Linked DNA regions of Homo sapiens. The protein of the gene in region 2 purifies or fractionates together with the protein of the main gene of each other region. This does not show direct contact. Each region holds a gene or a part of one and is shown on either strand. Other genes may lie near its edges. The genes, in order: SDC3, FARP1, KDM4D, NSRP1 and HAVCR2.

Region 1 (6,321 bases), on a different chromosome or scaffold from region 2:
CCAGGATGTCTCATTCCCAGCTCTCCCCTAAGTGGGGTGAGAGGAAGAGGTCCCTGGGAGGGATAGAGACCCAGCACACCCTAGCAGCTGGGGTCGCCTTCTCAGCCAAATTTCTGAAAGACCATCCTTAAAATCAAAGGCTTGGGAATCACACAACCCTGGGTTCCAATCCTGCTACCCCCGCCGATTCGTGGCATGGTTTGGGCAGGTCCTCTTACTTCTCTGACCCTTGGTTGTCCCTCTGTGAAATGGGGCTAATGACCCCTTCCTCAGAGGGCAAAAATTCAATGGGATGACTGACGAGTGTCCTGAGAAGGAGCTCAGGAGTCATGTGGTGTGCACATGAATGAAAGGGGCTCAGGACAGAAAGCTTTAGACTTGGAGGCCAGGTGGAGCGCTGGGCAGGCCACTTTCCTTGCTGAATAAGGCTAATAATTCATACTCCACGAGGTGGTGGAAGGACTTAGTGAGAGCATTTAATAGCCTCATGCACAGTAGGGCCTCGCAACACGGGTGACCTGAATCTGAGAGGTGTGGCTCAGACCCAGTGTTGGGTGGCAGATCAAGCAGACCCTGGGAGTCTGAGCCCAGAGGCTGAAATGGTGGGTGGGGCCTGGGGGAGGGCAGGTACTGGGGCGCCTGGTGAGGTGGTGGGAAGTGGAGTGTCCTCCAGGCCTCACATCTTCCCATGGGTCAAGCTGTCAAGGAGGGGCATCATCCCTCTTGTCCTCATCTGACTTGGGAGGAAAAGGGTTAATGGGTGGTACCTGGTTGCCGGGGTTCCGCACCAGAGGGAGAGGGCAGTGCCTGCAGCAGGAGGGACTGAGGTTAGATCAGAAGAGCCCCAGCCAGGGAAGCTCCAGGGGTGGCCTTGGTAGATGAGCGGTGGCTGGCACAGGGCAGGGAAGGGCAGGGACATGATGACCCTTGGGTCACCTGCCAGCCTTTGTGTGTGTGTGTGTGTGTGTGTGTGTGTCTTCGTGTCTTTCAGCATGGGGATAGCAGGGAGAGCAGGCCTCATTCACACTGCAGATGGTGAATTGCAGTGTGTGTGTGTGTGTGTGTTTGTGTGTCTGTGTCTGTCTCCTGGCATCTCCTTTGAGGAGTCCCTCTTCTGACAGACCAAGTTACCAGGACTCTGAGGGACATCTGCCTTTAAGGCCACCTCAGCTACTGTACTTAAGTCACCACTCAAAGTTTTGGAGTGTGAGGATCCTGAACATTTTAGCTTTTGAAACATGTTCTTTCAAAAGTCCAGGGCTGGAAGGGATCTTAGGTGTTAGTCTTGTTTGAATACTCCCAGTGATGGGAGACCACTACCTTGTGGCTGTGTGACCTTGTGAAAGTTACCTAACCTCTCTGTGCCTTAGTTTCCACCTCTTTAAAATGGAGACAATGCGAGAATGGAAGGGCTTAATTTGGAAAGCTTTTAGCCCAGTGGCTGGCACCTACTAAGGGCTCAACAAATATGGATTTCTTGTTCTTTTACAAAGTTGCTGTACTGTGGTTGGGAAGGCAGGAGGGGTGGGGAGTGGAAGGGTGGGAGACGTGTGTGTGTGTGTGTGTGTGTGTGTGTGTGTTTGTGAGAGAGAGAGAGTACGGATGGGGGTGGGGGTGGGGGTGGGGTGGGGTGGGGGAATTAGTAGGGAATTCTTTTGAAGCTCAGCCCCAGGCCTGGTGGTTTCCGTTCCTTCCTCACCCTGTTTCAAGCATCCCTGCTCTTCTCCCCTCCAGGCTCCCCTGGGTGACTGTGAGCCTTGGGTTTCCAGGATGAGATAGTCCTCACCAAAAAAATGGAAAGTTGGGGGCCCCTGGGCTGTTCTGGGCCAGGCTCTTGGGTGAACCATCTCCCCTTCCAGCATTTGGGGGACAGGCACAGGGACACCACAGCTGTATGCTGCCTGTTAGCTCCCAAGGTACCAGGGGCTCTGGGGACAGACACCTGCTGTGTGATTTCCAGTGAGGGATTTCTTTCTGTCTCAAAGTCCTTGTCTATAAAATGCGGACAGTAATGGTGTCAGCCTCACAGGGATGTTGTGACTTGGAAATGAGCTGCTTGAGTAGACCGAGCACACCTGCCACGTAGTGAGCTCTCAGGAGATGGGACCTTTCTGGGAGGGAGCATGGATGGGGTCAGGGAAGGCTTCCTGGAGGAGGAGGGTTTTGAGCTAAGCAATGAAAGTGGTCATCACATGACAGTAGCAGGCTGTAACCTGCCCTGACCCTCAGCTTTCTTACCTGTCAACTGGGGGCAACAAATACTTGGCTTTTAGAATCACTACTGGGGGCTGTGACTCTATCCTCAAGGCAGGGCTGGGATTTGAACCTGAAGCCTCCTGCTCTCTGGGGAGGAGTGAGCACAATGCCTCCAGCTGTGAGTTCAGTGTGTTGGGGGTTGGTGCGAGGTGAGCTGTGCTGGAAAAAAAAGTGAAAGAAAACAACAAACAAAAAACAAAAAAAATGGCCTTTTGAAACCCAGTGGCTCCTCCCACCTCATACAAGCGGGCATAGGGTCCCTGGGGGGTCCGGGGCAGCAGGAGTGGTGGCAGTGGTGGGGAGAGCGAGGGGGGGCTCATCCCAAGTGGGAGAGAGAGGTCATGTTTACCGAGAGCCCCGCCCACCAAGCACTTTACATGTATCGGCTTATTTCATCCTTACAATAATTTTTTGATGTAGGAATTATTAGAATCCTCATTTTAGTATTTTATTTTATTTAGAGACAGAGTCTCTATCGCCAAGGCTGGAGTGTGGTGGTATGATCCTGGCTCACTGCAACCTCTGCCTCCTGAGTACAAGCGATTCTCCCACCTCAGCCTCCCAAGTAGCTGGGATTACAGGCACCTGACACCACACCTGCCTAATTTTTGTATTTTTAGTAGAGATGGGGTTTCACCATGTTGCCCAGGCTGTTCTCGAACACCTGACCTCAAGTGATCTTCCCACCTCGGCCCCCGCAAAGTGCTGGGATTACAGTTGTGAGCCACAACCCCCAGCCAGAACCCCCATTTTACAGAGGAGAAAACTGAGGCACAGAGAGGCTCAGTGACTTACTCAAAGTCACACAGCCAGAAGTGGCAGAGCTAGTATGAGCCAGGGCCTGACAGGCTAATGGGACTGGGCTGCAGTCCTAAATTTACCCCCTCTTGCTGTGTGATCTTAGGCAAGCTGCTTTACCTCTCTGGGGCCTCCCTACCCCCTGGATTATGTCTGCATTAGCTACTGTTTAGTAAATGCCTGCTCTTCTGGCGGGGTGGGGCTGGGAAGGGGGTTGGTCCCATATCTTTTCTCACTTAATTCTCCCACAGCCCTGGAGGTCAGTGATGCTGTCTCACCCTGTGGGAGGGATTGGCCAGGGCTCTTCCTCATCTACCGCCTCCCAAGGCTCTGTAGCCCATAAAAGCAGCTACTCTGAGGGCCACTGGGGGTGTATGGGGTGGGGAGAGAGAGCTTTATAAACTGCGAAGGGCTGTCAGCAAGATTGTGTGTGCGTGCATGTGTACATTTGTGTGTGTGCCCACACATGTGTATGCGGAAGGGAGTTTATGTCTGGGTCATGTGGTCAGGGCACAGGAGAGGGGAAATGTTTGGAATCTCAGGATGAGAGGGGTCTAAAAAGCCACCATAAGCCCTGATATGTGCCAGATGCCCCCAGTGTTGGGGACTGAGTCTGCAGAGGTGACCAGGCCTGCCTTTAACCCCCTCTGGCCCTTAGAAAGTGTGTGGAGGCCAAATCCGTGTTCCTCCTGCTCCATCTCTGAGCACTGGCCCCATTGCAGCCAAGATTCTCTCTGGCCTCATAGTGATTGAGGCTTAGAGATGGGGTGTGACTTGGTGGGGGTCCCCCAGCTGTCAGGAGTGATGTCAGTGCTTTCTTGATAGACTTTGAGCTTCCTGGGCAGGCTCGTGGCTGCCATGTTTTCTCACTGAACCCCCAGGGACCACTCTGTGCTTGGTGCAGGCTCGAGTGAATGATTCAAAGGAATGAATGAATGAATGAGGGAATAAAGGAATGAAGGAAGCCGGGACTGTGAGCTATGGAGCCCAGGCAGGGGCTTGTGTCCTTTCCTGTGTAGGTGGGTTGGGGACAGTGAGGCTGGCAGAGTCCTGCTGCATGCAAGGCATGTGCCCGTGGGCTGGGAGGCGCCAGGGGGCTGCATCGGGCGGGCCTTCAGTCTGAGTGCCAAGGCACTGCCACCACCACATCTGGGCAGGACCGAGGGACTGTGGCTCTGGACTACAGCCCAGCTGCTTGGAGCCCTTTGATTTTGTGTCTCAAGGGACAGGGTGGCCAGAGCCAGGAGCTGCCCAGGCCCCAGGCCCTTGCTCCCATCATCCCCCCAAACCCCTGTCCCAGCAGGGAGCAGGGTCCTGGACTTCCTGACCTGTCTCACTGGCCCCTCCAGGCCTCTGTCCTCCATAACATCACATCCTGGGAACATCGGGCTGGCTCTTGGTAAATATTTGTTGATGGCACCCCCCACACCCTCACTCCCCTTGGCTCCCAGCCTCCCCAGATTCCAGGAGGCCTGGTGGCCTTCACTTCCGGCCCCCCTCCCGCCATGGCCAGAGGGGCAGCCACTCCCCTCCCCCACTGGCCAAGCCCAGTCTCAGCGCCAAACAGGAAGCCGTGATTACAGGGGGAGCCTGAGCGGCCATGGCTGAGGGCCCAGCAGTGGGGGTGGCGGTGGCCCCAACAAATGATCTGGCCCTTTTTTTACCTGGCTGCTGTGGGTGGAGGGCAGGAAACGCCTATGCTGGCCTTTTATACCAGGTGGAGAGGGTTCTACAACCCCTGTTGCCCCAGCTGGCTGAGGCCTGCCTTCTCCCCACCCCTGGCCTTGGTGCTATGTCTGTTTTGGGGTGTCCCAAGCCTGAGGGGGCAGCTTGAAGTCATCGAAGGAGTAGGGATCCTGGAGCCAGCTGATTCAGGGTTGAAATCCTGGCTTTGTCACATTCCTGCTGTGTGACCTTGGTGAGTTCACCTAACCTCTCTGAACCCGCAGTCTCCTCTTCTTTAAAATGGGACCTCAGGGTTGCTTGAGAATTAGTAATATAAAGTAATAAAGTAAATAAAGTACTAAAGTAAATAAGGAGCGGGCTGCTCCTGCAAATCTTGTTTTTTTTCCATTCACCTGCCTTGGTTTTTGTTCTTTTTCTGTCCCTCTCTGGGTCTTACTGAAGAACTACTGCTTGGGGGTGAGGAGCAGGGTTTTCTTTTGGAGAGAGGGGGAACTAAGTTTGAATAATCATGGATGGCCTGAAGGAGAACTCTGGGGGTGGGGGTACCCTTAGAAGGAGACCAAGGGCCGGACTCCCAGTTGGAGCCAGCAGGACTTAAGCCAGATGAGAGGAAGCACATTCTAGGGTCCGTGGTGCTGAGTTTCTGGGGGCTGGTTCTCCAGAGCTGTTGAGCAGCCTGCAGTCCATCCTGCATGATGACTCTTCAGGCCCTTCCACTCCTGGAACTCCAGAGAGGCCTTGTTATTTGCAGCTTGAGCCCAGGACTTGGTGAGACTGGGTGCTTTCCATTTTCCTCCCAGCCAGGGAGCATCTCGGCTGTGTTCTGTCTGTCACATGGGCCCTGGCCCAGAGTAGGTGACTATTGATGTTTACGCAGGATCTCAGGGGTGGAGAGTCCTAGAGAGATGGCCAGCCCTACAGCCTGACATCCCACAGCTGATGGCCCAGCCACAGCCTGGGGCCTTGCCAATGGATTGGGGCTGGCTCTCCAGCCTTAGATGGTCCCACTGAGCCTCCCACCACTCTTGAGGGGCTGGTGGGATTCCCCTTATTTAGAGGAAGGCTCAGAGATGTTAGGCCACCTGCCAAAGCACACACAGCCAGGAGCTGGTGGAGCCTGGTGTTCATTTGCCCCTTCTCCTACCCTGGAGCCCCATCTGATCTTGTCGTCACATCCCCTACTTAGCCAGGGTTTTCTGGGGGTGCAGCTGGGACTGGGGATAACACTGACTTGGGCCTTCATCCTGCTTTTGGATGGGCCATGGGCTTCCAGGGTGCTGTCTGGTGCTGCTTCACCCTGGGGTTAGCCTTGGCCCAGGCGACCCTAGAGATTCCTGTACCCCCTGCACTGCCAGCTAGGACCCCCCCATCCATCCTGCCCTCCCCCATCCCTGCCTGCCAGCCCAGACTTTAATGAGGGTAATTTAGAATCAATCACCAGCGGGATCTGGGAAATCTAATTGCAGCAAACTGATTGCCAATTCGATTGCGGGCACCAGGGGGCTGTGGGCGGCTCATTAGACCTGTCCCCCTCCCTGGGCTGGGGCTTGGGGGTGCTCCGTGGGGGATGCAGGGCCTGAG
Region 2 (6,321 bases):
CTTGCAATTTTGTAGCAAAACACATACTGCACTTGAATTCTTACTTGTATTCTACTTAAAGACATAATGATTCTCTGCACTCTAAAATGTGTGCTCTATTGATCATTCTGCTATTGGACTGTTTCATTGATCAATGCTTCTCTCTTAGTAGCCTTATTGAAGTATTGTTGACGTACAATAAAGTGCACACACTTGAAGTGCATAGTTTGATAGGTTTTTATTATATATATGTATATCCTGTAAAATTCCCCACAAAACCAACAGAATGAACGTATTCATCACCCCCAAAAGGCTGTTCAGTACATTCCTTTTCAACACAAGTGGGTAACCTGTGCTTTTAGTTTCAAAGGGATATAGAGAAAGCACCCGCCTTTCTCATGAAATAGGATCAGATTTCACCCAGTTAGGAAGTTGTAAATATGTTCAGGACCTAAAACCCTTTATTGAGCTCTTCCAGGTTTGCTTATATTTCCCCCTTATCTTTTATCAAAAGAGTTCCAGTGATTCTCTATTCATGCACCAGAAGTTTATGACAGCATAATTATTACAAATCACATCCCAAGAAGAGTTAAGTTGGCTTCCTGCCAGGTAGTAGGGAGTGACATTGTGAGAGCAGTGTGGTATTCAAGGCGGATTTTTTCTTGACAGTTTTTGACCTGCACGCATAGCCTCTGAGTATCGGATAAGAGAAACAATAGGCCGGGCGCGGTCGCTCACACCTGTAATCCCAACACTTTGGGAGGCTGAGACGGGTGGATCACCTGAGGTCAGGAGTTCGAGACTAGCCTGGTCAACATGGTGAAACCCCGTCTCTACTAAAAATACAAAAATTAGCTGGGCATGATGGCGTGTACCTGTAATCCCAGCTACTTGGAAGGCTGAGGCAGGAGAATCGCTTGAATTTGGGAAGCAGAGGTTGCAGTGAGCCAAGATCATACGACTGCCCTCCAGCCTGGGTGACAGAGCAAGACTGTCTCAAAAAGAAAAACAATAAAGCCAAGTGGAGTTTTGAGTACTATCATTAAATTTCAAATCACAATCCTGAACCATTTCTAAAAAGTATTAAGAAGGAAAAGAAGTGTCTCACAATTGAATTAATGTGCTTTGATTGTGTTTGACACAATCCCTAAGTATTGGGAATACCTGGGTAATGTAGTCACGTGCAAAGCCTGTGTCTCGGAACCCACCTTCTTGCCAGTGCCCTATTGCTTCATTCTTGCCACGTTAAATGAACAGGCCTGGTGTTCCAGTGGGCTCCAGAGGAATTCTAATTTCAGCTGAGACTGGGCAGATGGGAGTTGGTATCCGGCAGCTCCCCGTTGTTTCTCCACCTTGGATGGAGACAATGACTCCCTGGCTGCCAAAGACAATGAAGACATGTGAATCCGGCCCAGAGACTGTGCTGGCCTTGAAGACACACAGCAGGCCTGGCCTCCCATCCTCAGTTCTACCGGTGCTGTTGGAAGCTTGATGGGCCCAGGAGCCAGACCAGCGTGGATGAAGCAGGGAGTTGATTGCAAACCTGCTGAATGTTAACCATAGCTGCCAGGAAGGCGTGTGCTTGGAAGTCTCTTTCTGCCACATTAAACGTGTCATTTGCAGCAAATTAAAATAAATCCACGTTGCAGTTTCCATGTGTATAAAATGAAAATAGTAAGTCCATCTTGCTGGGTTTTATCATATCAGGGTTGTTAAGATACAGTATATAAAGCCCTCAGGATGGTACCTGGCGCTTCCTAAGTCCTGGCAGCTAATGATTGTGGTGGTTGTCATGGTTTTTATTTCTATTTATCTTTCTTTTCATCATTATCTTGGCTAGTTTCTTCTCTCCCTAGAGGCAGACTTAGTTTGTATGCCAAAATCCTATAATTAGTGAGAAATAATGATCCAGGAACAGGTATCATCCGATAGCCACAGATCCTGTGAGTTCTCTGCAAAAGTCATCTCTACTGAGCAGTCGCCTGCCAGCCCTCTTCCTTTAGCTCCCATAAGCAAAACAGACCAACTCCCAAGTTGCTTGTTATGCATTTCCTGGCTCACTGCTACTGTCTTTCTTTTTAGGGTTTCACTAAGATCAATGCCTTCAACTGGGCCAAGGTGCGGAAGCTGAGCTTCAAGAGGAAGCGCTTTCTCATCAAGCTCCGGCCAGATGCCAATGTAAGTGGTCCTGGCGGGAAAGGGGACCCGTTGAGCCATGGGATGGCGTGTGTCCTGCAAGGGGTGGAGGTCTGCTTGGCAGGGCTTCTGCTGAACCTCTGGCCAGTGCTACCCAGGTGCTTTTGTCCACATGAACGCCGAGCGTCTCTAGGACAGATGTATCCAAATGGTCGGTAACTCTACGGCTGTCATCGTTGGTAAACAGAGAGCGTAAAGGAGGTACATGAACATGTACCTGGGGAGAGGGTCATTTCCCTGCGCAGATTCAGGCAGCCCCTCCTGATAAACAACCTGAGCTGTGCTATTGCTGTGCATCCAGCCCCAGGCTACACCTGGAGACCCCATTCAGTATCCTGCCCTACCCCAGGCATAGACTGACTTCCCCAATCCCTGCTGGAGGCCCTGAGCCCCCAGTGGAACTCATTTTCATGGGCTAATTAGGTTCCCTTCCCCACTTACTTCCCACAACACGCCTAACACTGTGGCCCACGCCAGGACTGGGACGGGAAGGGAGGAGAAGCCTCTTCTTTGTCTGCCAGAAATGGCGACGGAGGAGGTGGGTGATGTGTCCTGGGCGTCTGTCCCCAACCAGCGTGTAGAGTTCTTTTTCCCATGGCAAAGAAGATGATAAATGGCAATTAGGCTTATAGTGTAGCTACAGTCTGGGTTCAGTAGGTTTTCATGGCCCGACCTGGGAAGCATATACCCATTTTAAATGGTTTTCCATGGAAAAATTCACTGGAGTTCCAAAAAGCTGCCTTATAGATAAAGAACTGCAGCACAGCTTGTTTGTAAGTTGGGTCCACCCAAAACTGTGAGATCCCCCAAAATAGTTAGAACTGCTGGGAATGCTAAGGACAGTAGTAACTTTTGTTTATATAATATGGCCACTTCAATTGGGAGCAGAAAATTTCTATATCCCCTTTCCAGAATCAAAGGGCATGATTTTTTTCAGCCAAGAGTGACACTTTGTGCTCCAGAAAAAAAAATTCATTTCCTGTGTAGTTCCTGGGGTGGCCTGGAGCCCGGAGCCGTGGGCGACTTCACAGAGAAACGACGTAAGAGCCAACATTGACACGAAGTATGAGGAAGAGGATGAACGTTGCGTTTCAGTGATTTTAAGGAGGCAGGAAGGGACTTTCAGTATCTGGGTTTTGTTTTTCAAGGAAATGTAAGCCAAATAAACATAATTTGTATATGAAATCTGTCAAAAAATGGTGTCACTTCCATTGAAGCCACGTGGCTGTTTCTGTTACCCGTCTAAGAGATTCTGTGGGGAAGAAAATGATGGACTAGGGACCACATCTTGTCCTTAAGAATAACTAGAGTTTAGTAAGTCTTTGCACTGATGGTCATGCTATAATAAAATACACAGCGAAAACTTTATCGGACAAAGCTATCTTCTGCCCCTTTTCTCCTATTTCAGTGGTGTATCTATGGGTAATGGAAAAAACCACCGTTGTATTTTCCCTTTTTAGAGTGCGTACCAGGATACCTTGGAATTCCTGATGGCCAGTCGGGATTTCTGCAAGTCCTTCTGGAAAATCTGTGTTGAACATCATGCCTTCTTTAGACTTTTTGAAGAGCCCAAACCAAAGCCCAAGCCCGTCCTCTTTAGCCGGGGGTCATCATTTCGGTTCAGGTGAGGTCGCCACTTTGTGCCTCTGTTTGCTGGGTGCACGTTTTTCCTCCCGCCTCTCACAGCCGCTGTGACACACAGCAGGTCAGGGAGGTGAACGCTCATTGGCCTCCAGGAGCTATGGCCAAGCGGGGGCGCTTGTATCTTAATCCCAGTGGGCTCTGTTTGAACAGCAGAGGCACCAGGCAAAGCCACCCAGTCATGGTAAACGCCTAGCGGGAGTCTCTAACTCAGAAAGGATTTCTCTCTCAGTAGAAGTACAGTGTCTTACTAACATTTGGTGTTGCTTCATAGAATATGTGGACTTGGATGTTATTGGTGAACTTTTCCATTCATTTTTAACAAATCATTGTCTGCCATGTGTCAAATACTGTTCCAGGCACTGAGCCCAGTGATCCCTGCCTTCACTAAAGGCACAGGCTCTTGGGATGGTTGCTTAGTAACCAAACACAGTTATCAAGTGGGCTTAGTTAATTGAACATTTTTTCTGTATATTCAAGGAAAATATCAAGAGACTGAGTGGACCCAAAAATACAGAGTCTGTCAGGATTGCTTTTAGTCCTGGCTAGCCAAGCAACCCTGCATCTCTCCCAGTTAGGGAAGGAGGGGAAGTGAAGCCCTGAAGCATCATTTGTGTGTTTAAATGAGAATGCCTTGGTATTTCTCCCCTTCCCTGTTGTGGTCTCTGTTTCAGTGGTCGGACTCAGAAGCAGGTTCTCGACTATGTTAAAGAAGGAGGACATAAGAAGGTGCAGTTTGAAAGGTAAGAGAAGCTTCAATGCTACTTCCAGTCTGAGAAGGCTCAGACTCGCCAGGTAACAGTTTGTTGCTGCTAAATATTTCTTTACCCAGACTTCAGACTTGATGTCCCTTGAGTTGTAAATGATAGTCTCAGTCATCCTCAGCAAGTCCAGTGTTAGAGAGGAAGGTTTTAGAGCCCAGGGGCACACCCTCGAGAGTGAGATGAGAACAGACAGAAAGGACTAGGGGAGGCGGGAGAGGACATACTGGGGAAGGAGAGAAGGGCTTAGGACATCACAGTGGGGGATGAAGCATGATAAAAACTAGCTCACTGGTGAGTCCTTCAATATTTTGGGATTTGTATTGAAAGCATGTCTATGAACATTTTAATTAAATCAAGTAAATCTGGATGAGCAGAAACAGGATTTTTTCTTTCTCAAAACAGGGTCTTGCTCTGTTGCCCAGGCTGGAGTGCAGTGGTGTGATCACAGCCCACTGCAGCCTCAGCCTCTGGGACTCGATCAATCCTCCCACCTCAGCCTCCTGAGTAGCTGGGACCACAGGTGCCCACCACCACTCCCAGCTAAATTTTTGTAGAGATGGGGTCTGCCTATGTTGCCAGGGCTGGTCTCAAACTCCTGGGCTCAAGCCATCTTCCCGCCTTGGCCTCCCAAAGTGCTGGGATTACAGGCAAGAGTCACCATGCCCAGCCAGAAACAGGATTTATTATTATTATTGTTGTTGGTGTTATCAAACACTTGTAGCCCTTAGTGTGTGCCAGGCTGTTCCGAGCACTGGGCCTGAGTGAACTCATTGAGTCTTCACCTCAGCTCTGTGAGGTCAGTGCTCTTTTATTCCCTTTATAAAGATGGAGATACTGAGTCCCCAGTAGGTTAAATAACTAGTCCAGGTCTCATAGCTGCTAAGCAGTTTCTGGCCAGCCAGCCAGCTCCCAAGCCCAATGCTCCAAGGAGGAGCAGCAGAACCCAAGGAGGGTAAAGGAGCGGAGGATAGGCCTCAAGAACTAGTTACTGCATGTAGCGTTTTTAAAAAACTTTTTTCATTTTCATACATTTAAAAATTACAATAAAGTACAGGGAAGTCAGCAAACACCCAGATTCCTACTACTTAGAATTAACGGCCATTAACAGTTGGACACATTTGTTTCTGGGGTTGTTTTTTCTTCTTTTATTTGCAGCTCTCGTTACAGACATGGTAAAACCCCCTTGAACCACCAGCTCTGGTAATTTCCCTTCTCCCCTCCCCAGAGGCAGCTGCCACATTTAGGCTCCTTTCTGTATGCATATTACTGCATCCCAAAAGAGTGTGTAGAATTGCTCTGGAGGCCGGGCACAATGGCACATGCCTGTAATCCCAGCACTTTGGGATGCCGAAGTGGGTGGATCACTTGAGCTCAGGAGTTTGAGACCAGCCTGGGTAACATGACGAAAGCTCATCTCTACCCAAAAAAAAAAAAAAAAAAAAAAAAAAATTAGCTGGATGTGGTGGTGCATGCCTGTGGTCCCAGCTACTTGGGAGGCTGAGGTAGGACGATTGCTTGAGCCTGGGAGGTCAAGGCTGCAGTGAGCCAAGATTGTGCCACTGCCCTCCATCTCTGGGCCACAGAGCGAGATCCTGTCCCAAAAAAAAAAAAGAGAAAAAAGAAAAACTGCTCTGAGTGTGTTCTTTTCATTCATATAAGTACTCCCATATATAATTCTGCATCTTGCTTTTTTAATACTACCTTTTTTTTGAGATCTGTTTTAAGGGCCATACAGTAGTAT
Region 3 (6,321 bases), on a different chromosome or scaffold from region 2:
GGAAGAGTATCAAGTGACAGTGTAATTATTCTCTACTGGTAGCTATGGTTCCAGTTGAAAGAAGCAAGTAGTCTCACAACAAAAGCAACCATTGAAGACTCATAGAGAAGTGACACATTTGGCTAGAACACTGAAGGATCTCTCCATCATTGTACCTGGCAAATTCTAAGCAGTTTTTTTTTTTTTTTTGGAGCGCAGTCACACTTACAAATTGTAGTATTTTCTTTTGATATGCAACATCTGAAGACTATATGTATAAGGAGACATTGCATCATTCTTCCTAGAATCCTTAGAAATGTAGAAAAGAAGTAACGCAGTTTATAAAACAGATACAAAGTGCTCAACCCAAAGCTTATTTTACTTGTATATTCAAAAAAATATATAGGTTTGTGTGATTTTCATAGTCAGCATTTTGTTACTTCTTGAGGGAAAGACCCTCAGCATGATATTTAAGTTTCTGATATTTAATTATCCTTCTAAATTGTCTCACTTTTCTCTTTTCTTTTCTTTAGAGCAAGTTTTCTAATAGAAAGAATGAAATATTTTATTTTATATTCCAAAAATATAAAGAATTTATAATAAAATCATTGTAGAATAATTTTTAAGATTAAAAAATTGGGATGAGATTGGGAGACTATCATATGATACAGGTAATCTTGTCACTTGTACATCCTCAGTGTCTCGCTTGAGTAGTGACAGCTTTAAGTAGGAGAGGAAGACAAGCTGGATTCTTGGGTTCTTCTATAAGGAAGATAAAGAGAACACACCCTGGGGTGTCTAGATGTCCTTGGGGCCTCATGGAAGACTATCATTGGATCCTCTGACAGGCACTGACCATATGTCTGGGAAAAGGGAGATGTAATAGTCAGTGGTGACTACGATAACACATTATTGCCCTTGATAGAAATAAAAGACATATAAAGGAGTAACTTAGTTTCAGGAGAAAGATCATCAATTTGTATTAAACCAGTTGACTTTCAGGGGCTCACTGGGCCATCTAAGTTGGAGAAGGAGAGCAGAAGCTTAGGAGAGAGTCAGTTATTGGAGAAAGTTATGACAATAAATAACATGTTTAAAGGGAAACAGCATGGTACTAACAGAAACCCTGAATATAAATAGGAAATTTTAAGAGAGAAAGAAAGTTAAGAGGGATAAAAATTGAACTTTGAGATGTCTGCATGTGTGTGGTAGAAGAGGAGGTAGAACCCAGAAGAAAGAAAAGAACCAGTGTTAAAAGAAGTATCAGTGCCCTGGAGGTTGTAGGAGTTTTAGGAGGAAGGGGGAGGTGTTCTGTGAACCAGTGATGTTCTGTGAACCAGATGTTCACAGAACCACTGGTTCTGTGAATCAGTGAAGTGTAACCCCTGGAGCAGAATTTGGGAGGCAGTTTGATGATTTATGGAGAACAATGTCAGTAGAAAGGTGGGGGCAGGACCTGGGGTTGGGTGGGAGAGAGAGAGAGAGGAGCCTGAGAGGAGGGAGAGAGGGAGTAAGGACAGTAGCTTAAATTAGGAAAGAGATTGATGACTGATGATTTAATAAAGAGAAAAATAACTGATTATTTAATTCAACATAGTCCTGGACCAAGTGGGAAATGTTGATTTAAGGAGTTCAAATGGAGAAATTAGCCCTAGAAAGCAGTGTTTTCTCCTGAGAGGACGGAGAACAGTGAGAAACATGGGGTGTAATCAATAGGTGACAGAGGGAAGTGTGTGCCAACTCATTTAATTAATAAAAATGTTTTGGGTGCCTACAATATATAAGAAAACCAATATTCTTGGAAAACACAATAGTGAACAAGACACAGATTATGTTCTCAATACTTTTATATGGAAGATAAGTCAAGGATAGACATAATTGTAGAGACTGAAAACACAAGCTATTGAGTTAGTTATAAATTTCTCTATACCTTGGTTTCTTCCTTCATAAAATTGGGATAATGATAGTACCAACTTCATAGATTAGTTGTGAGTTTTGAATAGGATACTATAAAGTGCTTAATAAGGGGTCTGTCTAAATGAAGTGCTAAATAAAAGTGACACTGTTCACATTATATAAGGTAGAAGTGATAAGTGGCAAGAGAACTACAGGATATGAAAGAAGATGTGCTGTTTTGTTGGGACAGTAAAGGAAGATGAACAGTCAAGTTCATCTACTTGGGAAGGAGTGGAACTTAAGAACTGACGAAGAAGGGAAAGTTTGGGAGAGAGAATGTGGGAGGGGAGAAACAGTTTGAAGTTGAATAATAGCATAAAGTCAAAACTCAGGAAGATGTCAAGACATCAGTAAAATAGGCACTCAGTTAAAAACTGCCCCTAGTTTAAAAAATCTGTTTCGAGCATCCCAATCTTTTTTGAGCTTCCCTTTCCTAGTGTCCTAACAGGACTATTTGACTAAATAGAGAAATCTAGCCCACGAACCTCCCTCAAGTTCTTATTTCCTTTTTTATCCAGGATAGATATAATGGTTCATTCTCCATTCAACCCATCAACAACCTTATCCCTTTCTCACTGAGGTATACTTGCCTGGAAAAATCCTAACCCTGATGGAACCTTACTATCTGCTTTCTTCATCTCTTTTGAATGGCCCTTCTCTATGGGGAAAATTCCTGTCATGCTAGATTGGTCCATGTAGGGCTGATACCAGTTGTGCGAGGGATAGGGGACACATACTGCAAAGTCACACGGTATGAGTTAAGGAAACACATCATCTTTATTCTTTGTTAGTTCCGTACCTTTCCTCTTTCTTTCCCTTAACTCTAATTTGCCTTTATCACTTGAATGTATAGTTTATTTTCAGTCGTTCTTTCTTTTCCTTTTAATACAATGAAATATGCCTCTTAGTTGTCTTTAACGCTTTTCCTCCTAAACCCTATTTTTAAATGAACATACAGAAATTTGTGAAAATCATCATACCTTGATGAGTTAACACAATGAGTTATTCTGATGGGTATGAAACCAGCACCCAGGTTCTGAACAGATTAACTTTACTCAAGAGATCCCCTCAAGCCCCCCTACACAACAACCCCTCTTTTCCCAAGGTAGCCACTACTCTGACTTCAAACATAGATTACTACACTTGATCTTAGCCAAAAGGCCAAGAAGCAATTCAAACATAGATTACTTTGCCTCCTTTTCATCTTTATATAAATGCAATTGTGTAATAGGTATTCTTCTGAGTCTTGATAATGTTACTCAATATTGATCTTTATAAAACTGCATTTTCATGTGGCTTTGGTTTATCTTCATTGCTATATGGTATTCTGTTGTGTGAATATACTGCAGTGTACTTATTCATTCTATTGCTGATGGACATTTGGGTTGTTTAAGTGTTTGGCTACCAGAAACAATGTTGTTATGAACATTACTGGATGTGACTTTCAGCTCACAACCATACACATTTCCTAGGCATGTGGAACAGTTGGATCACAGAACATATGTATGTTCAGTTTTAGAAGAAACTGTCCAAATAGTTTTCCAAAGTGATTATAGTGCTTCATATTCTCTGTAGTAGGGTATGAAAATTCCCACTGTTCCACATCCACACCTCCACTTGAATTATCAATCTTATAAAATTTTAGCCTCTCTTTGTAATATTATTATTCTATTCTGGTATTTAATTTCTGGATGCCTAATATTTTTTCCAAATATCAATTTTTAATCTCTGTGTATTCTTTCTTTTAGATTTTGTTCTAAACACTGAGGACATTCTCTGCTACATTTGGGTCGTACCCCCAGGTCTGAGTAATTCAATAGACTTAAGAAGACAGAGCCCAGCAGCAACCGAAACATAACAGAGTTGCAGGATCAGCTAACGTCAATGCCTGGGCAAAGCTGCTGCCCAGAGTGGAATCTCACTAGTGAATAAACAAGCCCAAGAAAGATTATCATCTCATTTGCAAAAAAAAAAGTACGCTGGTAGATCCTGCTACCTCATAGATAACACCAGTCAAATTTTTTTTTAAAGTAGCATTTTCCTACATTGTCAACTATCTAGAACATACCTAAAAACTAAGAGTTTACTGCTTATTAAATGGAAACTATGAAGTCTAAGGCCAACTGTGCCCAGAATCCAAATTGTAACATAATGATATTTCATCCAACCAAAGAAGAGTTTAATGATTTTGATAAATATATTGCTTACATGGAATCCCAAGGTGCACACAGAGCTGGCTTGGCTAAGATAATTCCACCCAAAGAATGGAAAGCCAGAGAGACCTATGATAATATCAGTGAAATCTTAATAGCCACTCCCCTCCAGCAGGTGGCCTCTGGGCGGGCAGGGGTGTTTACTCAATACCATAAAAAAAAGAAAGCCATGACTGTGGGGGAGTATCGCCATTTGGCAAACAGTAAAAAATATCAGACTCCACCACACCAGAATTTCGAAGATTTGGAGCGAAAATACTGGAAGAACCGCATCTATAATTCACCGATTTATGGTGCTGACATCAGTGGCTCCTTGTTTGATGAAAACACTAAACAATGGAATCTTGGGCACCTGGGAACAATTCAGGACCTGCTGGAAAAGGAATGTGGGGTTGTCATAGAAGGCGTCAATACACCCTACTTGTACTTTGGCATGTGGAAAACCACGTTTGCTTGGCATACAGAGGACATGGACCTTTACAGCATCAACTACCTGCACCTTGGGGAGCCCAAAACTTGGTATGTGGTGCCCCCAGAACATGGCCAGCGCCTGGAACGCCTGGCCAGGGAGCTCTTCCCAGGCAGTTCCCGGGGTTGTGGGGCCTTCCTGCGGCACAAGGTGGCCCTCATCTCGCCTACAGTTCTCAAGGAAAATGGGATTCCCTTCAATCGCATAACTCAGGAGGCTGGAGAGTTCATGGTGACCTTTCCCTATGGCTACCATGCTGGCTTCAACCATGGTTTCAACTGCGCAGAGGCCATCAATTTTGCCACTCCGCGATGGATTGATTATGGCAAAATGGCCTCCCAGTGTAGCTGTGGGGAGGCAAGGGTGACCTTTTCCATGGATGCCTTCGTGCGCATCCTGCAACCTGAACGCTATGACCTGTGGAAACGTGGGCAAGACCGGGCAGTTGTGGACCACATGGAGCCCAGGGTACCAGCCAGCCAAGAGCTGAGCACCCAGAAGGAAGTCCAGTTACCCAGGAGAGCAGCGCTGGGCCTGAGACAACTCCCTTCCCACTGGGCCCGGCATTCCCCTTGGCCTATGGCTGCCCGCAGTGGGACACGGTGCCACACCCTTGTGTGCTCTTCACTCCCACGCCGATCTGCAGTTAGTGGCACTGCTACGCAGCCCCGGGCTGCTGCTGTCCACAGCTCTAAGAAGCCCAGCTCAACTCCATCATCCACCCCTGGTCCATCTGCACAGATTATCCACCCGTCAAATGGCAGACGTGGTCGTGGTCGCCCTCCTCAGAAACTGAGAGCTCAGGAGCTGACCCTCCAGACTCCAGCCAAGAGGCCCCTCTTGGCGGGCACAACATGCACAGCTTCGGGCCCAGAACCTGAGCCCCTACCTGAGGATGGGGCTTTGATGGACAAGCCTGTACCACTGAGCCCAGGGCTCCAGCATCCTGTCAAGGCTTCTGGGTGCAGCTGGGCCCCTGTGCCCTAAGTCCACGGGCTGTCTTTATATCCCACTGCCCTGCTGTGTGACAGTTTGATGAAACTGGTTACATTTACATCCCAAAACTTTGGTTGAGTTTGCAGGACTCTAGGCATGCATGAAAGAGCCCCCCTGGTGATGCCCTTGGATGCTGCCAAGTCCATGGTAGTTTTCAATTTTGCCATACTTTTGTTCTTCCTACCGGACCCTGGAATGTCTTTGGATATTGCTAAAATCTATTTCTGCAGCTGAGGTTTTATCCACTGGACACATTTGTGTGTGAGAACTAGGTCTTGTTGAGGTTAGCGTAACCTGGTATATGCAACTACCATCCTCTGGGCCAACTGTGGAAGCTGCTGCACTTGTGAAGAATCCTGAGCTTTGATTCCTCTTCAGTCTACGCATTTCTCTCTTCCCCTCCCTCACCCCCTTTTTCTTATAAAACTAGGTTCTTTATACAGATAAGGTCAGTAGAGTTCCAGAATAAAAGATATGACTTTTCTGAGTTATTTATGTACTTAAAATATGTTGTCACAGTATTTGTTCCCAAATATATTAAAGGTAACCAAAATGTTAAAATCTGATTTTATTTCAAATATTGTGTTTTCAACCTGTGTGTGTATGTGTGTGTGTGTAGATTATTCTTTATGTACTTCATAATTATTTGAAAACATTTATGGCATTGTGTGGTGGTGAATGAGCTCAGGGGATGGTTGTCGCATTATG
Region 4 (6,321 bases), on a different chromosome or scaffold from region 2:
GTCACCTTACTCTTCTGTCAAACACTGAATATATTCCTTCTATCTTACTGTATGTTTGTACCCTTTAACCAGCTTCTCTTTATCCTCCCCATTTCCCTCACTTACCCTTCCCAGTCTGTTATCTACCTTTTCACTCTACCTCCATGTGATCAAAGTTTTTATTTTAGCTCCCACATGGAAGTGAGAACATACGATATTTATCTTTTTGTGTGTGGCTTATTTTACTTAAGGTAATGACCTCCAGTTCCTTCCATGTTGCTGTAAATGATACGATTTCATTCTTTTTATGGCCAAATACTATTCTGTTGTGTATGTATACTGTATTAGTATTTTAAGGATACCACTAAAAACGTAAAAAGACTTGACCTTTAAAAACATAAGATCTGGCCGGGCACGGTGGCTCACATCTGTAATCCCAGCACTTTGGGAGGCCAAGGCAGGTGGATCATGAGGTCAGGAGTTCGAGACCAGCCTGACCAACATGATGAAACCTTGTCTCTACTAAAAATACAAAAATTAGCTGGGCATGGTGGTGTGCGCCTGTATTCCCAGCTACTCAGGAGGCTGAGGCAGGAGAATCTCTTGAACCCGGGAGGCGGAGGTTGCAGTGAGCCGAGATCGCACCACTGCACTCCAGTCTGGGCAACAGAGTGAGACTCTGTCTTAAAAAAAAAAATAAGATCTTACTGATCTGCTTTTAATTGTAGTAGTTTTTTTTCTCACACATAAATATATGTATTTAAGATATTTGTTAAAAAGAAAAATATTTTCCCATTCATGATATGACTACAATGTATCTGAAGGAATCTGTTTTTCATTGATACTATGGAGTAGATGTAGAAACAGTACTTAAAATATCAAATACTAAATAGACTCGTTTTTCCTTTAATGTTAATAACATTCTGTGTTTTCATTTTATGTGACTTTCCACTCTAATGGTCAACAGTACATGTACAGTTATAATAATACTTATGTTACTCTAGTAGATGGAATCATACCTCAGCTTTACGTTTTCAGAGGAATCATCTCAGTTGGTGAATTTCCAATAATAGCAACATAGGACACCGTTCAATATTATAAAGTTTAAATCAGATTTATGCTATAGGCTATTTGTACCTTTCCATGCCTTTTAATTCTGTGTTGTCTTGAGACATTTCAGTGTATATCCAGTACTGGTGTTTAAAGGAAAGTTATTAAAGTTTGGAATAAGAGTACCTGAATTGGAATCTTGCTTTGCCATTCACCAGCTGTTTGTCCTTAAATTCTCTCAGGTAATCTGTAGCCTTAACAATTAAAGGTGACTTCTATATGTCATTTAGCTTACTTATCCATTATTTCTGAAGTTGTTAGGATTATTGTAACTACTGTTGTTGTTACTATTTTTAGATTAATATATTTCCTTTCTGGATTTCCATTTAAAATATATTTAAAGAATCATAAAAATTAAACACAAGCAACATCCTTTTATATTCTGCACAGTTCTTAGCAGAATTATAGATTCAAAAAAGACACACAGAATAGGCCACAATACATGTGCCAATTTTTGTTCTCAATCTTAAAATTACATAGTATAATTATTATGGTTATCTGAAAACAATCACGTTGTGCACATGTACCCTAAAACTTAAAGTATAATAATAATAATAATAGTAATAATAATAATAATAAATAAAATAAAATAAGTATCTGCTCTTTTATGAGGAAATTGTTTTTAATTGTAGTAGTTATTTTTCAGTCTGATCTGAATCTAGATGAGTTTTTTATGTTATATAGAAGATCATTTTATATATTTTTATATAGGGTTACTATTACAGAAAAAAGTAAAAGTTTTACTGCTACTCTTTTAAGCTTTTTGTATTTGTTTAAACAGGTTTTTGGCATTTAATCGTCATCCTTAGTGGTAATTGTTAAAGTACCTTTATTTAGAAAATTGAGAATCAAATGACCTTCAAAAGATCATCAGTTTTTCCTGACTTTTTCAGGTTAGGTTCAGAGTTATCCACTGATGCTGTTGAATTCTAGGGATATAAGTTTGTGAATAGAATATGTAAAACTATTGCACTCCTTCCATTATGTTACCTTCCTGTGTAAGTAGTAACAGCTTGTTTTTTCAACGGTCATACTTCATTCTTCTAAACAGCTATGAACATAGAAACAAAATCTTTTGAGGTGTCTCAAAATAGATATAGTCTACATTGGAAAGGCCTTTCTCAGTCTGCTTATTCTATATTTTATAAAAGTCTGGAAAGGTATAGCCTTGTGTTTTTCTTTCCCAAGTTTTCTTTTTAAAAGTTATTTTATTTCTCTGAGAATCTTCCATAACAACCAAGTTACATAGTTTAGATTGAAGCATCCAGTTTGAAAGGCAGCAGGTAAACTCTGACAGATTAAAGGTGACAGACTGAAGGAGGAGATAGGAAAAAATAAAAGCAAGTAAAAGAGGAAAACATCCAGCATTTGGAGATGTAATCTTCTCAGTCAGTCCTGAAGACATCATTAACTCAGTGGTCAAGAAAAATATTTTTCATTCATACTAATCAGAAATACAGACATGAAAATACATTGGAAATATTAACTATTACTTTCAGTTTTGGTATTTAAAATTGATATTCTAGTGAATGAAAGTTTCATATTACATGTAACAGAAATTTGGATTAAATCAGTAATACATGTAATACACAACTAGTATACTTAGCATAGCACCTAGCTCAATAAATGTTAGCAGCTATTACTGTTTTTGTTATCAACATCTTTCCCCCAGTTAGTCAGTTTACCATCACCTAAAATGTCTTTAGTTCTTTGCATACTTATTTAATTTTTTAAATATGTATTATATGACCTTTGTGTATTAAATTGATTTGTCTGTGGTCATAGAGAACTATTTTGTTCTGGTTATTACCATGAAAAAAAAAAAGCACCAATTGCTGGTACAATACAACTGAAGATAGCAAGTGTTAATAGGCTGGACTACTATAATTCTAGAGCTGAGGATTTTGTGTACATATATATATTTAAAACTTACACATATGTTTTTATGTATATTTAAGACTTCGTTTTTTTTTAAACAGCAGTTTTAGACTGACAGCAAAATTGAGAGGGACAGAGATAACCCATGTAGCCCTTGCCCCCACAAATGAAAGAATTAAAAATGCATCAGTAGCTTTATTTTGGCTTTTTTAAAAAGATGTAATTCACATAGCATAAAATTCATGCTTTTATACAATTCAGTGTCAGTATATTTGCAAATCCTGATACTTGAAAAAAATTAATTGTGCATATTAAGGTATATAACAATTATGGGATATAGATGGTAAAAAGTTTACTACAGTAAAGCAAATTAACATGTCCATTATCTTACATACTTTTTTTGTTTCTGTGGCAAGAGCAGCTACAATTTACTCATTTAGCATGAATACCATATATAGTACAATTTTATTACCTATTGTCCTCATGTGGTACATTAGATCTCTAGACTTGTTCATCTTGTTACATACCTACCTCTTCCCATTTCCTCTCACCCCACCCCTAGTAACCATTGTTTTTAAGTTCTTTATCTCTGTGAGAGATTCCACTTACAAATGATGTCAGGTACTATTTTTCTTTTTGTGTCTGGCTTACCATGTAGCATAATGTCCTCCAGGCCCATTCATATTGTGGCAAATGGCAAGATCTCCTTTTTAAAGGCTGAATAATACTCCATCATACATATTTACCACAGTTTCTTTATCCATTCATTTGTCAATGAACAGGTAGATTGTTTCCATACCTGGCTATTGCAAATAATGCTGCAATGAACATGGGAGTGAAGCTACCTTTACCAGGTGGTGATTTCATTTCCTTTGGCTATATGCCAAGAGGGATTGCTAGGCTGTATGGTAGTTCTATTTTTAATTTGTTTATAAACCTCCATACTGTTTTCCATATTGACTGTACCAGCCTACATCTGCACCAGCAGTATATAAGAATTCCCTTTTCTGGCACCCATGCTAACCTTTATTATTTTTTGACTTTTTTAGAATAGCCATTCTAACAGGTGTGAGGTGTTATCTCTTAGTGGTTCTGATTTACATTTCCCTGATGATTAAAGCCTGTACTATTAAGGAAACATATTTTTCTTAAGTATTTTTTTTTCTTAGCTGTATGTAATCTTTAGTTTTGCCCATGTGATGACTACTTCCTATCTTCCTCTTGCATTCTTTTACATTTTTATTCTCTTTGATTCTGGTCTAATGTCATATCTCTTTTGGAAAGGGATTCTTGATTCCTCATATACATTTAGTTGCCTTCTCTGCCCTGGGCTCCCACAGTGCTTTGTTTATTCCTTTATTATATTGCTTATCACATTTATATTGTAATTGTCTTTTTTTTTTTTTTTTTTTTGAGACAGAGCCTGGTTCTGTTGCCCAGGCTGGAGTGCAGTGGCACAATTTTGGCTCACTGCAACATCTGCCTCCCAGGTGCAAGTGATTCTCATGTCTCAGCCTTTCAAGTAGCTGGGATTACAGCTGTGCTCCAACACTCCCGGCTCATCTTTGTATTTTCAGTAGAGACGGGGTTTCACCATGTTGGCCAGGCTGGTCTCAAAACTCCTGGCCTCAAGTGATCTGCCTGCCTCAGCCTCCCAAAGTGCTGGGATTACAGGCATGAGCCACCGCGCCTGGCCATATATTGTGATTATTTCTTTAATTGTCTTCCCTTTCAGACTGTTTATCTGAAAAACAAGATTTTGTTTCAGTCTCTGGCCTAAGACTGAGACTGTTCTTGCTTTTTCACTATCCTCAGGACCTAAACATGCTTTTTGGTACATAGTTTTTGATTATTGCCACGAATAGTTGCTGCTGTCCCTAAGCCTTAAACATAAACCGAGAGCTTGATACACTATATTGAGTGGTGAATATTAAAATAGTTTGCTTTTTGTAAGCTGGGAATCATACCATTTTAGTGTTGGAAGGTACCTGAAATATTATCTAGACCAGTCTTTCCCCATTTCTCACACACACACACACACACACACACACACACACACACACTCCCTCTCTCTCTCTCTCTCTCTCTCTCTCTCTCTCTCTCTCACATGTTCACATGAAGCAAATTGAAATCTGTAAAGGTTGAATGACAGTAGTGAATTTAGGACTAAAAATTCATGTTTACTCATCTTTTCCTGTACCATTCTATTTTCTCTGATACCTTATAATCTATTCTGAGGATTTACAATGCAAATTCATTTATTTCCTGAAGTTTAGGGAAAAAACCCTGAAAATGTTAGTTTAATTTGTATTATTATCTTTTTACTTTTAACTATAAGTAAGGCACCATTGCCAACCAGAAAACAGGTTGAGCATCCCAAATCTGAAAATCAAAAATCCTAAATGTTCTAAAATCTAAAACTTTTTTGAGCACTAATGTGAAGCTCAAATGAAATGCTCATTGGAGCATCAGATATCAGATCTTCAGATTTGGGGTGCTGAACCAGTAAGTATTTTAAAAATCTGAAATACAAAACACTTCTGGTCCCATGTATTTTAGATAGGGGACGCTCGTACTGGAAAAGAAATTTTAAATTTGTTTAAAAAGTGACAATATATTTCTGTTTTACAGACCTCTGTGAGTGAAAGCCTTCAGAGGGAAGCTGCTAAGAAGCAGGCCATGAAACAGGTAAGGTAGAAGACTGGGATAAGTGCATTCAGTGAAGCATTCCGGCTCATTTTTAAGCATCAGTTTTGGTATCTAGGTGCTGAGACTAAAACAGAATAGATTTAAGGAAAAACACAATGAAGAATTAGCTCCTTATTGCTGTGCTATAGATTAAACCAGTTCTGCTTGTAGATGACTCATTAGTCTAATAATGGATTGTTTGGCCTGTTGTTATTATTAAATTCTTGCTAGTGAGCTTACTTGCAGGGAAAAAAAAAACCTTTTCACAACCAAAATGGTTTCACAAACTTATAATTATTTGAAACTCATCTGCCCAGAAAGAAGAATATCAGAGATAGATACAAATATATAGATATATAGATATATAGATTTTTTTTTTTTTTGAGATTGAGTCTTGCTCTGTTGCCCAGGCTGGAGTGCCGTGGTGCACTCTCGGCTCACTGCAGTCTCCATCTCCTGGGTTCAGGCAATTCTCCTGCTTCAGCCTCCCGAGTAGCTGGGACTAAAGGCGCATGCCACCATGCCCAGCTAATTTTTATATTTTTAGTAGAGACGGGGTTTCACCGTGTTGGTCAGGCTGGTCTGGAACCCGTGACCTCAGGTGATCCGCCAACCTCAGCCTCCTGAAGTGCTGGGATTACAGGCGTGAGCCACCGTGCGCGGCCT
Region 5 (6,321 bases), on a different chromosome or scaffold from region 2:
TGGGAACTGACACATTGGATTAGGTGATTTCTAGGATGCCTTCTAGCTAGAATAAAGCCCATCACCTTCCCTGGATTCCAGCCACAGAAAGAATAGTTAAATTCTTCATGTAATTCAGCAAGGACGTACTCAGGGTGCTCCAGAAGAGAACACTGGGCATAAAGCAGAAGTCAAGTCACATTGATCATGAAGGTTAATTTTAAGGTATTTCTTGTCAGTGTCCTGGTCTCTTCTAAACTCTCTGGAGCTCCATTTTTTTTTTCTTCTGTAAAATGAGGTTAATAGGTGAGTCCCACCTCATAATGTCATAAATCTCATAAATCACACCTTATGGGCTTTAAATAAGAAAATGTCTAAAACGTTTATCCCAATGTCTGACCACAATTTGTACATGTTAGCTGTTGTCGTTAATATTATAAGATCAGGAGGCACAGTGAGATTGTGGTTAAAGTACTTCAGTGACAGGTGGAATGGGTTCTAATTTCAGCTGTTCTTGATAGCTCTGTGACCTCAGTCAAGTTGCTCAAATTCTCTGAAGCTCAGTTTGCTCATCTCTACAATGAGGATAATTCCAGTGCCCATGTCATGAGGTGGTTGTAATGTATAAACATGATAATGTATGTAAAATGCTCAGCATAGTACCTGGCCCATAAAAAGCACTCAACTGTTTATTATTACTATAGTTACTGGTTTTAGCTCTCCAAAGTTTCAGTCTTTGGTTAGTCTTTAGTGATTGGTAGCCAACATCTTTTATGCAATTAGAGAGGAAACTAAATATGGTGGGGACAGAAAATAATAAAGTTATACCAGATACTTATTGTATGCCATTGTTATATTTTAAAGAATCTTACAACCATAGTGCTAGAAGGGACTTCAAGGGTCATTTAGTCTCACTTTCCCATCCTGTGCTTCAGTACTTTTTTTTTTTTTTTTAATTGAGACGGAGTCTTGCTCTGTCACCCAGACTAGAGTGCAGTGGCGCAATCTCGGCTCACTGCAAGTTCCGCCTCCTGGGTTCACGCCATTCTCCTGCCTCAGCCTCCCAAGTAGCTGGGACTACAGGCGCCCACCATCAAGCCCAGCTAATTTTTTTCTTTTTTGTATTTTTAGTAGAGACAGAGTTTCACCGTGTTAGCCAGGATGGTCTCCATCTCCTGACCTTGTGATCCTCCCGCCTCGGCCTCCCAAAGTGCTGGGATTACACGCGTGAGCCACCGCGCCCGGCCAGTACTTTTTACTACATCACCACTGAATGGGCATTTGCTGTAGACGGAGTTCACTCCCTGTCGAGGTGGTGCATTTCCTTATACTTGTCTCTACCACAGACAGAAGTCTTCTTTCCTTTAGTTTTTCTTTCCTTTTTTTTTTTTTTTGAGACGGAGTCTCACTCTCTCACCCAGGCTGGAGTGCAATGACACGATCTTGGCTCACTGCAAACTCTGCCTCCCAGGTTCATGCCATTCTCCTGCCTCAGCCTCCCAAGTAGCTGGGATTACAGACGCGCGCCACCACGCCCCGCTAATTTTTGTATTTTTATTAGAGACGGGGTTTCACCATGGTGGCCATGCTGGTCTCGAACTCCTAACCTCAGGTGATCCCTCTGCCTCGGCCTCCCAAAGCGCTGGGATTACAGGTGTAAGCCACCACGCCCAGCCTTCCCTTTAGTTTTTGTTTGTTAGTTCCTTCCCTCTAGGGCAACAAAAATGGGAATATAGGAATAATACCTCGAACCTCTGAGCTTCTCAAGGGCCTGACTGAGAAAAAATATTGAAACAACCAAAAATAGGTCAGTAGCTCCTAAATAGGAAAATAAAATAAAAAATTGAAATGAATGAATATTTAATGGTTTGTCTATAATATGTAACATTATGTAAATTGGCTGCTGGCAAACCAACTCTAAATGTGGGATGTGGGAGCATTTAATATAAAAATGGGGCTGGGCACAGTGGCTCACATGTGTAATCCCAGCACTATGGGAGGCCAAGGCAGGCAGATCACTGGAGCTCAGGAGTTCAAGACCAGCCTGGGCAACATGGCAAAACCCCATCTCTACTAAGAATACAAAAAATTAGGCTGAGTGCAGTGGCTCACACCTGTAATCCCAGCACTTTGGGAGGCCAAGGCAGATGGATCACCTGAGGTCAGGAGTTTAAGCCAGCCTGGCCAAGATGGTGAAACCCCTGTCTCTACTAAAAATACAAAAATTAGCTGGTCATGGTGGTGCATGCCTATAATTCCAGCTACTCAGGAGGCTGAGGCAGGAGAATTGTCTGAGCCTGGGAGGAGTGAACCGAGATCTCACCACTGTCCTGAAGCCTGGAAAACAGAGCGAGATTCCATCCCAAAAAAAAAAAAAAAAAAAAAAATAGCCGGGCATGGTGGCATGTGCCTGTAGTCCCAGCTACTTGGCAGGGCTGAGGCAGGAAGATTGCTTGAACTCAGGAGGTTGAGGATTCACTGAGCCGAGTTGGTGCCACTGTACTCCAAACCTGGGCAACAGAGCGAGACCCTTTCTCAGAAAAAAAAAAAAAAAAAATGGAGTAGAGCCTTTAAAAGTAAGAGATCCAAGGGCCTGGAATTTGAACACAGAACAAATGCAACTTGTCTTCTACCTGAAGGAGTAAGGACTGGGTCACAGGTGAGTCCTCAGCTCTAGAGTAGATCTGCTTTAAATCCTAGCTTTCCCAATTAATAGCTGTGTGATCTTGGGCAAAGTGGCTCTCTCAGACTCAGTATCTTCATCTGAAAAATGGGGAAAATAGTAGTACCTACTTATTGTGGTTGAGGATTAAATGAGATTGTATGTATATGGTGCTAAGCACCATGTCTGGCACCTAATAAGTACCAAATAGATGGTAACTACTAAATTTATACACTGTTAAGGCCATCACATCTCACCTCCGCTGCTACCTGCCCCACCAGGCAAATCTTGGTTTCTCCAGAAAGAACATTGCCACTCCCTTCAACTGTCCCATCCATCTTGGTTGGTGGCCAAATCTGTGTGAAAAAAAGCTGTAATGACACAACAGTGCTTGATTTTACTGATCATTTTCATAGCAAAATGAAGTTTTTAAAAAGTTAGTTTTACCATTTTTATCAAGAAAAATAATTATAAGGAGTCTGAAACTGGATTTACATTTAAAATCTTATGTGCACTTAAGATTCATGTTTACTTAGCAGTTGTACTGATGAGGGTCTTTTTTTTATTTTTTTGATATGGAGTCTTGCTCTGTCACCAGGCTGGAGTGCAATGGTGTGATCTCGGCTCACTGCAACCTCCACCTCCTGGGTTCAAGCGATTCCACTGCCTCAGCCTCCTGAGTAGCTGGGACTACAGGCGTACACCACCACGCCCGGCTAATTTTTTGTATTTTAGTAGAGATGGGGTTTCACCATATTGGCCAGGATGGTCTCGATCTCCTGACCTCGTGATCTGCCTGCCCTCGGCCTCCCAAAGTGCTGGGATTACAGGTGTGAGCCACTGCACCAGGCCTGTGGTTTTTATATTTTAAATTTTTTTCTGGTAATTAGGGCAAAAGTAATTGGAACATAATCTTTTTTTCTTCAATAATTTTAGGCTGAGGCTATGCCTTTATAATATTTAAACTATAGTTTGCTAAACCAGCATTTAGTCAAACCCTTTATACACATTAAGGCTTCCAGAAGGTGACAGTGACATTTAAGAAGTTTCAACATCTCTGACTCAGCCATAAAAATGAGTAAGCATGCTTAGTTTTCCAAAAGCTGGCAATGTACTTATTTTTAGAATTCAGTGTTCATGAGGTCAGGGCCTGTGCCCCTCTTGTTTCCTGCTCTGTCCCCTGTGCCTAGAGTAAGGGCATAGTGCATATTCATGGAATGGATCAGCAGATGAAGAAATAAACAAATGAACAGGAAGGAAAGATGGTGAGTGGGTGGCTGGGCAACGTGACCCTCTTCATAATGACAGCACTGAGGTAAGGGCTGGTGAAGGCAGTATAATTAAGAATGTGCATTTAAGGCTATGCAGACCTAAATTGGAAGGCCATTTTGTCATTTGCTAAGTCATGTGACCTTGGGTTAGTCACTTCACTTCCCTAATTTTCAGTTTCTTCATCTGTGCAATGGGACTAACAGTCTCTACTTTAGAAGCGTAGTTCTAAAGTAAGTGCTTCTAAGTATCTCTAAAATGAGCTTCTTCACTGAAAGAGTTTATTTAGCACAAGGCCTGGCTCCTATTACATTGTGACCACAGTGATTATTTTCATTTGTTGGCAACCCTGTCTCCCTTCTCATGAGTAAATGCAAAACTTATTTAAGAAAATGGAGGCTGGGCACGGCACGGTGGCTCACGCCTGTAATCCCAGCACTTTGGGAGGCCGAGGCGGGTGGATCACTTGAGGTCAGGAGTTCGAGACTAGCCTGGCCAACATGGCGAAACCCCGTCTCTACTAAAAATACAAAAATTAGCTGTGTGTGGTGGTGTGCCCCTGTAGTCCCAGCTACCAGGGAGGCTGAGGCAGGAGAATCGCTTGAACTCAGGAGATGGAGGTTGCAGTGAGCAGAGATCATGCTACTGCACTCCAGCCTGGGTGATAGAGTGAGATTCTGTCTCGCAAAAAGAAAAAAAAGAAAAAGAACATGGAGGTTGCAGTGAGTTGAGATTGTGCCACTGCACTCCAGCCTGGGCAACAGAGTGAGACTGTCTCAAAAAAACAAAAAAGAAGGAAATGAATTTTTGTTGTCTTTTAAAATCTAATTAGAATATAATGCCTGAGGCCAAGCCTGGTCGTTCACACCTGTAATCCCAGCATTTTGGGAGGCTGAGGTGGGCAGATCACCTGAGGTCAGGAGTTCACAACCAGCCTGGTCAACATGGCCTCGTCTCTACTAAAAATACAAAAATTAGCTGGGCGTGGTGGTGCATGCATGTAGTCCCAGCTACTTGGGAGGATGAGGGATGAGAATTGCTTGAACCAGGGAGGCCGAGGTTGCGGTGAGCTGAGATTATGCCACTGCACTCCAGCCTGGGTGACAGAGTGAAATTCTGTGTCTAAATAAATAAATAAATAAATAATGCCTGAGTCTTATCAATATTGCTAGATGTTTGTAGAACTCATTAGGGTCCTGTGAAAAAAACAAAGCACATATTTAATGTAGGACTTCCTGGCAGAAGTCTCTATTTCATAAAACAGTACGGTTCATTATCTAGATGAAAAAATGTGGCCATCCTAAAGTTGATTCCTGGGTGTTCAGTAAATTTTGTCTGTCTCTCCATTAATTATTGTGACAAGTACGGAGTAGAATTCATTTCAAATAGGATTATAGGCATCATTAAGATTTTTTAAAAACTTAGATAAAAGAAAACGTTCTTAACTATACTATTGGCTATTTTTCCTCTCTCTCTCTCTCTCTCTCTTTTTATAGCAGAGACACAGACACTGGGGAGCCTCCCTGATATAAATCTAACAGTAAGTAACTTTTTTTGTGAGCTATGTTGTACTCAACTTGGAGGGGAAATCATGGCTTTAGACTTCCTTCATGCCCACCTTGTCCTTGGGGTAAAAAGCCTTAAGTTCCCTTAGCTTCAGATTCCTGGGCTGTAACATGTTGATGATGACAGTTCTAACCTCATAGGCCTGCTGTAATGAAGGACTGACATGATGTGTGTAAAGTGCCTGGCATATAGTAAGAGCTTGAAAACCACAAAGAAGAAACATTAGCATTTTGTCCCTCTTATTCTTCAATTTCACAACTGTCTACCCTGTGGAAGGTTCAAAGATTCTTCATCTCCCTAGAATACCATTCTTCTTGCTTCCATTGCAATCCTAATGGGAAAGAGTATTTAAATTTATCTCTTTAAATATGGCAAGACACCAGTCAGGAATATTCAAAGTGAAGAGGTTTTTTTTTTTTTTTTTTAGACAGAATTTCGCTCTTGTTGCCCAGGCTGGAGTGCAAGGGTGTGATCCTGGCTCACCTCAACCTCCGCCTCCCGGGTTCAAGCGATTCTCCTGCCTCAGCCTTCCGAGTAGCTGGGATTACAGGCATGAGCCACCACACCCGGCTAATTTTTTTATTTTTAGTAGAGACGGAGTTTCACCACATTGGCCAGGCTGATCTTGAACTCCTGACCTCAGGTGATCCACCTGCCTCGGCCTCCCAAAGTGCTGAGATTGCAGGCGTGAGCCATGGCACCTGGCCTAATTTTGTATTTTTAGTAGAGACAGGGTTTCTCCATGTTGGTCAGGCTGGTCTTGAACTCCTGACCTCAGGTGATCCGCCCAACTTGGCCTCCCAAAGTGCTGGGATTACAGGCATGAGCCATGGTGCCCAGCCAGT

Evidence for each region.
Region 1: the proteins of FARP1 (region 2) and SDC3 purify together in Homo sapiens (affinity purification with mass spectrometry; one large-scale study listed by BioGRID and IntAct). This does not show direct contact.
Region 3: the proteins of FARP1 (region 2) and KDM4D purify together in Homo sapiens (affinity purification with mass spectrometry; one large-scale study listed by BioGRID and IntAct). This does not show direct contact.
Region 4: the proteins of FARP1 (region 2) and NSRP1 purify together in Homo sapiens (affinity purification with mass spectrometry, with the first as the bait; one large-scale study listed by BioGRID). This does not show direct contact.
Region 5: the proteins of FARP1 (region 2) and HAVCR2 purify together in Homo sapiens (co-immunoprecipitation; one large-scale study listed by IntAct). This does not show direct contact.

What each region holds. Positions count from the first base shown.
Region 1 is NC_000001.11:30,900,616-30,906,936, reverse strand, and holds part of SDC3 (syndecan-3), read left to right. Parts: intron 1-6,321. UniProt on the Homo sapiens protein: Cell surface proteoglycan that may bear heparan sulfate. May have a role in the organization of cell shape by affecting the actin cytoskeleton, possibly by transferring signals from the cell surface in a sugar-dependent mechanism.
Region 2 is NC_000013.11:98,386,322-98,392,642, forward strand, and holds part of FARP1 (FERM, ARHGEF and pleckstrin domain-containing protein 1), read left to right. Parts: intron 1-2,061; coding exon 2,062-2,157; intron 2,158-3,635; coding exon 3,636-3,799; intron 3,800-4,490; coding exon 4,491-4,559; intron 4,560-6,321. UniProt on the Homo sapiens protein: Functions as a guanine nucleotide exchange factor for RAC1. May play a role in semaphorin signaling.
Region 3 is NC_000011.10:94,993,341-94,999,661, forward strand, and holds the end of KDM4D (lysine-specific demethylase 4D), read left to right. Parts: intron 1-3,683; 5' UTR 3,684-4,032; coding exon 4,033-5,604; 3' UTR 5,605-6,179; downstream 6,180-6,321. UniProt on the Homo sapiens protein: Histone demethylase that specifically demethylates 'Lys-9' of histone H3, thereby playing a central role in histone code. Does not demethylate histone H3 'Lys-4', H3 'Lys-27', H3 'Lys-36' nor H4 'Lys-20'.
Region 4 is NC_000017.11:30,166,944-30,173,264, forward strand, and holds part of NSRP1 (nuclear speckle splicing regulatory protein 1), read left to right. Parts: intron 1-1,159; coding exon of another isoform or gene 1,160-1,271; intron 1,272-1,957; exon of another isoform or gene 1,958-1,982; intron 1,983-5,598; coding exon 5,599-5,655; intron 5,656-6,321. UniProt on the Homo sapiens protein: RNA-binding protein that mediates pre-mRNA alternative splicing regulation.
Region 5 is NC_000005.10:157,097,987-157,104,307, reverse strand, and holds part of HAVCR2 (hepatitis A virus cellular receptor 2 precursor), read left to right. Parts: intron 1-5,406; coding exon 5,407-5,450; intron 5,451-6,321. UniProt on the Homo sapiens protein: Cell surface receptor implicated in modulating innate and adaptive immune responses. Generally accepted to have an inhibiting function.